2 linked regions of the Homo sapiens genome follow. The protein of the gene in region 1 interacts with the protein of each later gene in a biochemical or structural test. Each region holds a gene or a part of one and is shown on either strand. Other genes may lie near its edges.

Region 1 (3,817 bases):
GCTTTGCTTGGTCATAGTGGTCCCAGATGGGGTGTCTTGGGGCTGCCAAACCCATGGCCAACAGTGCCTATTCCCCGGGCAGTTCTATGATGCACCCTATGAGTACGAGCTGATGCTGAAATGCCTGAACATCGTGTTCACATCCATGTTCTCCATGGAATGCGTGCTGAAGATCATCGCCTTTGGGGTGCTGGTACGTGCTTTGGTCCCTGCTTTGCCTTTTGACAACCTATATTCTGGTTCCCCATCTGTAGGGCGACCTTTGGGGGCTCACAATTTGGAGCTGGGAATTCTCCGAGTACCCAGAGTATATGTAATGCTACAGGGGCCCTGGGGAAGGGGCTGTTCTGAGACTCTTGGCTACATAAGCTCTGCCCCCAGCCTAGGTCCTGGGAGGGAGGCAGGGCTGGGTTCTTCCTCTTTGGACACATGGCTCTTAGTCCTGCCTCTGCCCAGGCCCAGAGGTATCTGTGTCCCTGGCTTTGACATCTGCTTACCTCTGGCCTTGTGCTGTGCCCCCTGGGGTGGCCTGTCTGCCCTGTGCTCAGGGTCTATCACCCTCACCGCTTTCTTAATCAGGGCCACCACCTATATATACCTCTTTGCCAACAGAGCCCTCATCAGCCGCTGGCACTAACTGCTCTTCTTTTTCTCTAGAACTATTTCAGAGATGCCTGGAATGTCTTTGACTTTGTCACTGTGTTGGGAAGTATTACTGATATTTTAGTAACAGAGATTGCGGTAAGTAGCATTTCTGTCCCTCCTTCAGGGTCCCCAGGTGGTTTCCTTCTAGAGCCTGCTCCCCTCAGTGCATCTCCAGGCCCTGTGTTAGCCTCTTCCTGGGTTCCGCAGAACCCCCTGGACATGTGGAGGCTTCGCTCCAGGGGTGGAGTTTAGGGATTGGGTGTTACCTCAGCAGATGTTCTTTCTTGAATAAGAAAGTGGTTCTCAAAGATCTTTTGGGCTGCTGGCCTGAGAGTTACCTGGAGCTCCATGGTAACAACTAATCAAGAAGATGTGAATCTTAAATTTGTATCTGTATAATATGTATCTAACAAGGTGGTATCAAAAATATATAAACTGAAACCAGTAAGGATTTATATTTCAAAATATTGCCCCCCACCGTCTCTCTATCTCTCTCTATATATATCTGGAAATACTCATTCTTACCAAACATATGTGGATTATGTCTTAAAATTGACCAGTGCTGGGATATAAACTTGTCTCAACAAATTTCAAAGCATCTGAATCATAAAGCAACATTCTTTGAGTACAACACATTACACTGGAAATCAATGGCAGAAAATCTCATTTGTTTGGTCTTAGGTTGAATTCTCGAGAAGCAGACGCAGACACGAGCACTCATGTGAAATTTATTTCTTAAGTTATGTTCCCAGTAGAAACCAGCAGAGGGGCATGGGGAAATGGGTGGGAAGAGAAGGACCAGAAATCCTGCGTCCCAAGCCAAGTCCTGGTGGGTCAGTGTGGGTCATCTCCCAAGGGACTTCTGGCAGCAGCGTAGGTCGCACCTCAGAGCTATCCCTGCTGGAAAGGGAGCTGCAACGTGTTTGCCTCTGCACCCTCCGCACGGCATTAGGCTGAGGGCTGCACCTGGGGTGTCAATTCTCAGATGCTTCCAGCTCCCTGAGTGTGCCACGAGTGCTGCACCCAAGCTGTTAGGGCTGAAGGGACGTCTGACACCATCAGAGGAGAACCTGCTGGAGCACCAGGCTCCTTCCTGTTCTGCCCACACTTCACATTGGGTTCACTGTGCTCATTCTTTAGGATGGTGCTGGTCATGGTCTCTGGGAGACAGAGCGGAGCTCCGTCTGCTGTGCTGGTCCAAGCAGAGCTGGTGTTCATCATCCCGTTCCCCCCACCCTTTCTAGAGCCCCTGAGCTGATGTTCATCATCCCGTCCCCACCACCCTTTCTAGAGCCCCTGTCCTGTGGCCAGCCTTCTGCTGCACTGGTTGCTGGCCTGGTGGGATGACCCAGACCCTCAGCCCTGCGCATCCCAAGTCCCTACTTGTTGCCGTTCTTTTTCCAACCCTGGCTGCCGTGGTAATCCAGTCGCAGTGAAGACTGCGCACAGGAGCGTGTTCATAGGAGCATGGAGAAAGGCCCAGTGAAGCCCCTGATTCCCAGAATTATGCAGTGGCAGCTCTGCCCTTCACAGTAATGAGGGTCAGATGATCTGGCTGGCATGGAAACTCTTTGTGATGCCTGCTGGCCTTCTGGCACGAGCAGCCCCAAGTGACCAGGTGGCCACCATGGCTTTGGTGTTGTGTGGTAGAAGCCTTCTCCACCTGTTTGAACCAGGGCCTCTAGATTTGCCAGACCTAAAATTGGGGAAGATGAGCGCAGAGTTCATACTGGGTTTCTGGAGCGATGGTGAGACAGGCCCCTTCTTCTTTCACCATTTCCTCCATCCATACATTTTACTGATTGGGCACCCAGTACCATCGATTGGCCGTTGGTTCATCTTGAAATATGGCACCCCAACCCCATGAAGTGTATCACCAAGCCGGCATTTTATCTCTGCCTTTAAGGTCAGGGCAGCGTCTCCTAAGTGGTGTTGCGTTAGATGATCCAGTGGACCCCGCGGTCACCTGGCTCACATGCATCCCCTGCGTGTGCTCCAAGCTGATGTTATATGGAATCCTGTGTTGGTAAATCTCTGAGATGTTAGTGCCGGCACGGTACTGCACAAGGAAAGGCAAACCCACACCTGGGATGTGGGTGGATCCCAGATGAGACAAATCACTGCCCTTTCCAGGAGAGGGTGTTCTGATATAATCAGCTTACCACTAGGTGGCTGGTTGACAGCCCCAAGGCATGGCACCAGATGGAAGCCCAGTGTTGCTGTCTGTTCATTCCCGGTAGATAATCGTCAGTGGTCATGACTGGATCATGCTGCTGAGAGGCTCTTGGCCACGATGGTCACCCTATCCAGAGGTCTGCTGTGTGGACACTGGGGCTGGTGAGGACAGAGGCTAGCCAATATCTGTTGGTCGACTTATCCCAGTGCTTGGTTTTTAGTGCCCCATGGTGAGCATTGGTTTGCAAAACAAAGGCCTGTACCCCATGCCTGTTCCCAAGGCCCATCTGTCTGCCTCTCACCTAGACCTTGTTCCCTCCAGGATCCTGACCAGCCGTTTGTGCCTGCCTAGGACCCTGTTATCCTCAGCACAGGCAACTTGTTTTCCCCCCCACACAGAGCTGACCAGATACCCTGCCCAGGGCTCTGCTCCACCTCTGTCTTTCAGGCTGTTCCTATGTGAGGCTGTAGTGAGGCCTGCACCAGTATACCAAGCAACCCATCCACAAATCAGGTCTGCGTTTCCCCCTAAGTTGTAGTGAATCCCCATGAAGTGATGGCGGGAGTGAGGTGAGGACGTCATTGGTCAACAGAGGTGCGTGTCATGGGGGATTGGGCCACATGTTGTGTGCTGTGTCCTCTAGACATGCTTGGGTTCGGTCGTAGAGGTACCCCTTCCATTGTTCACTGGGCCTGTGGTGGGTCTGACAGCACATCACTATGGGGAGATGCTTTGGTGTCATAGACAGCGATGTCTCTTGGTGACACACACAGCTGCCACCAGGGCCAGGAAGTAGGTTGGCCCCTCTCATTATGCTTCCGTTCTGTAGATGGCATGGCCTGCTCCCAAATGCTGGGTGTCTGCACTGACTTCTCTGTGGAGGCTTTCCCAGGACTTTACCCAGTATCCTTACCTACCACATACACATCAAGGACCCTGGGGGTTGCTGGGTTTTGTGGCCCAAGTGGCAGGGCCACTGCTATCACATCCTGGGTC
Region 2 (2,606 bases), on another chromosome or scaffold:
TCGCAGTCCCCACCCCACCCATAATCAGGTCTCCATAATTACTTCCCTCACCCCGCCCCGTGTAATTACAGAGCCGGGCCGGGGCGGGGGTATTTATAGACAAGGCTATAGATAGCGACGAACTGGGGCGGGGGATGTGGGGGAAGGTGTTCTACGGAGAGCAAGAGGCCAGAGACTGGGACCCACCGACAAACACAGGATAGTCAGGTCCAAGGAGATGCAAATGGGGGACGCGGTTAGGGAGTCCCAGAGCCGAGGTAGAGGGGGAGCAGTGGTAAGATGAGCGAGCAGTCGACTCTGGTTGGAAGGGTCCAGGGAAATGGGGTCACTCGGGGACGTGGGCCGCCTCCGGGCGGGCAACGCCTGAGAAGCACGCAGCGCTCGGCGCCCAGTGCGCCCCCACGAGCGGGCACGGCGCCGGGTCTGCCCGGAGCCCGCAGCGCGCCCGGAGGGAAGGCCGCAGCGAGCCGAGGCGCCGCCGCCCGCTGGCGCGGAGAGGGCACGAGCGAACAAGGCGCCTTTGAGAATCCACCGCCCCCCCTTCCTCCTCCGGCCGGCCCCGCCCCCAGCCTGGCACACCCTCTCCCCCCCTCCCCGACAAAGCTTGCCTTGTGTCCCCCACCCTGCGTGCACCTCTTGGGCCCCACGGAACCTCGGCGGCGGCGTCCAGGGATCGCGTCCGGAGCTCCCAACCGGATACCCCCCCCAAGCCCGAAACGGCGCTGCCCATCCTCATACAGTCACCTCAGTCCAGAAAACAGCGATTTTAATTTGAAAGCGATTTTATGTATGAGAGGGGAAAGGAGCCCCAAAGAGAAGGGACGCAGGGCAAAAATCATGCAGCCCCAGCACCCCACCTCTGCGGGCTGGCCACCTCCCCTCAATTCTCAGGCCAGGATCCTGTGTCCCCAGCCTATGCTATGTGCCCAGGGCTGGAGGAGAGCTGTAAAGGGAAGGCCTCCGGGACTACACTCGTGAAACCATCCCCTGTGGGGGCCCTGTCCTCACAGCCCAGGCCCCTTCCCCAAGTTAGACAGGAAGAGATAGGGGGGGCGGCGGGAAGCTGGGAAGGCTAGTGCTTGGAGAGCCCTAGGGACAGGCCATTTCAGGGCCCTGCCTTTCCCAAACACCCACCTCCACCACTGGCATTTCTTAGTCAACCTGGGAAAGTACAGTACTTCTTTGAGTCTAACTGCAAGTCTCTATCCTCACAGGAAATTAAAAATAGCAGATCGGTTCCTACATCTCCACCAGCCCCTTCACCACCACCACCACCTTTTTTATATTTCAGTCTGACTGCAGAAGGAGGTGAAGTGTAAAAAGAGACTCTGGACAGTGACAGGGCCCCTCCCTCTTCCAGAGAGGCCCCCATCTGCCAGGTTTGAGAGGAGGAAGGCCTGTCAGGGCCCTACTCTCATGTCCATCAGCTTGGGAGGCCTGCCCCCCAGTATCCACCTCTGGGGGAGTTCCCCATTTCCACTCTTCAGATGGGAAGCAAAATGAGGCAAGATGAGAAGGAAGCAAGGTCCTGGAGGCAAGGCCAGTGCTTTGTGCTGGGGGAAGGACAGAGGGTGAGAAATCACCCCAAATCATGGGAGAACCCGACAAATTCAGAGACTCAAGGCCACCGAAGAGAGACAACCAGTCCTCACAGGTATCTGGGGTCCCTTCCAACTTGGGATATCAAGCAGATCCCTTGGAGGGTTTATGTTCTTGGTTCTGCCCTGTACTTCTCACCCCATCAAGGTTCTGGGAACATGGCCCCCCACCCTGCCCCAGGGCTTGGAGTCCCTCTTGGATGTGTGCTCCTCCAGTGTGAGAAGCACCACGTCTGGGTCTGAGCTCAGGCCAGTTGATGGGGAGCCTCAAGCATCTCCATGAGGAAGGTGTCGATGGGGGTGTCACCAATGAGCTTGAAGAAAAACAGATGCTCTAGACACTTAAGGCCAATGGACCGGAGGGCAGGAAGACGTAGCAGCAGCTTGGCAAACCTGGGGTGGAGGTGGGAGAAGGGGATTGAGAGCTGGAAGCACACGGGCCCTGAACACATCCTCATAGCACTCCCCACCCCCAAGGGAGCCTCAGTGCCCCCCAGCCCCATCTCACCGTCCCTGCTGCTCAGGGTACTTCTGTTTGCAGTAGGTCTCCAGTGATGCATACACTTTCTCCCGCAGGACCTCCACCTCACTAGGGTTGGAGAGGCCCTTGGCATCTGGGATGGCAGGGAAGAGAGGAGGAAGAGAAATGAAGACAAACCAAATCAGGATGGCCATGCAGATGTGAGCCACAGGATGCCCCTTTTGGGCTGCACTTGCTTGCCCTTTACCAGAGGCCTGGCAAGGGAAGCAGGGCCCACTGGGTTTGTGGGATGGATCCGTGGATGTGGGTTTTTCCTCGGCCAGTTGGGAGATTTCCAGGTTGAGGGTCTTACTGAGGGGGATAGCTGGGTAACTTAGGAGTCTCGGAGAAGAGGAGGCTCCAAGGTTGCCTTGGCCTTGAGAGACAAAGGTAATCCTCCTCTTACCTGGATTAAACAGAATGATTGCCCTCAGGCAGCCAAGCTCTGTCTTGTCCATCCTCATGTCACGCATTTTGGACACTAGCTC

Evidence for each region.
Region 2: the proteins of CACNA1B (region 1) and RXRB form a complex in vitro, tested with the Homo sapiens proteins (one study listed by BioGRID).

The regions. Positions count from the first base shown.
Region 1 is NC_000009.12:138,058,997-138,062,813, forward strand, and holds part of CACNA1B (voltage-dependent N-type calcium channel subunit alpha-1B), read left to right. Parts: intron 1-82; coding exon 83-193; intron 194-657; coding exon 658-741; intron 742-3,817. UniProt on the Homo sapiens protein: Voltage-sensitive calcium channels (VSCC) mediate the entry of calcium ions into excitable cells and are also involved in a variety of calcium-dependent processes, including muscle contraction, hormone or neurotransmitter release, gene expression, cell motility, cell division and cell death.
Region 2 is NC_000006.12:33,192,839-33,195,444, forward strand, and holds the end of RXRB (retinoic acid receptor RXR-beta), read right to left. Parts: coding exon 2,525-2,606; intron 2,213-2,524; coding exon 2,107-2,212; intron 1,992-2,106; coding exon 1,844-1,991; 3' UTR 750-1,843; downstream 1-749. UniProt on the Homo sapiens protein: Receptor for retinoic acid. Retinoic acid receptors bind as heterodimers to their target response elements in response to their ligands, all-trans or 9-cis retinoic acid, and regulate gene expression in various biological processes.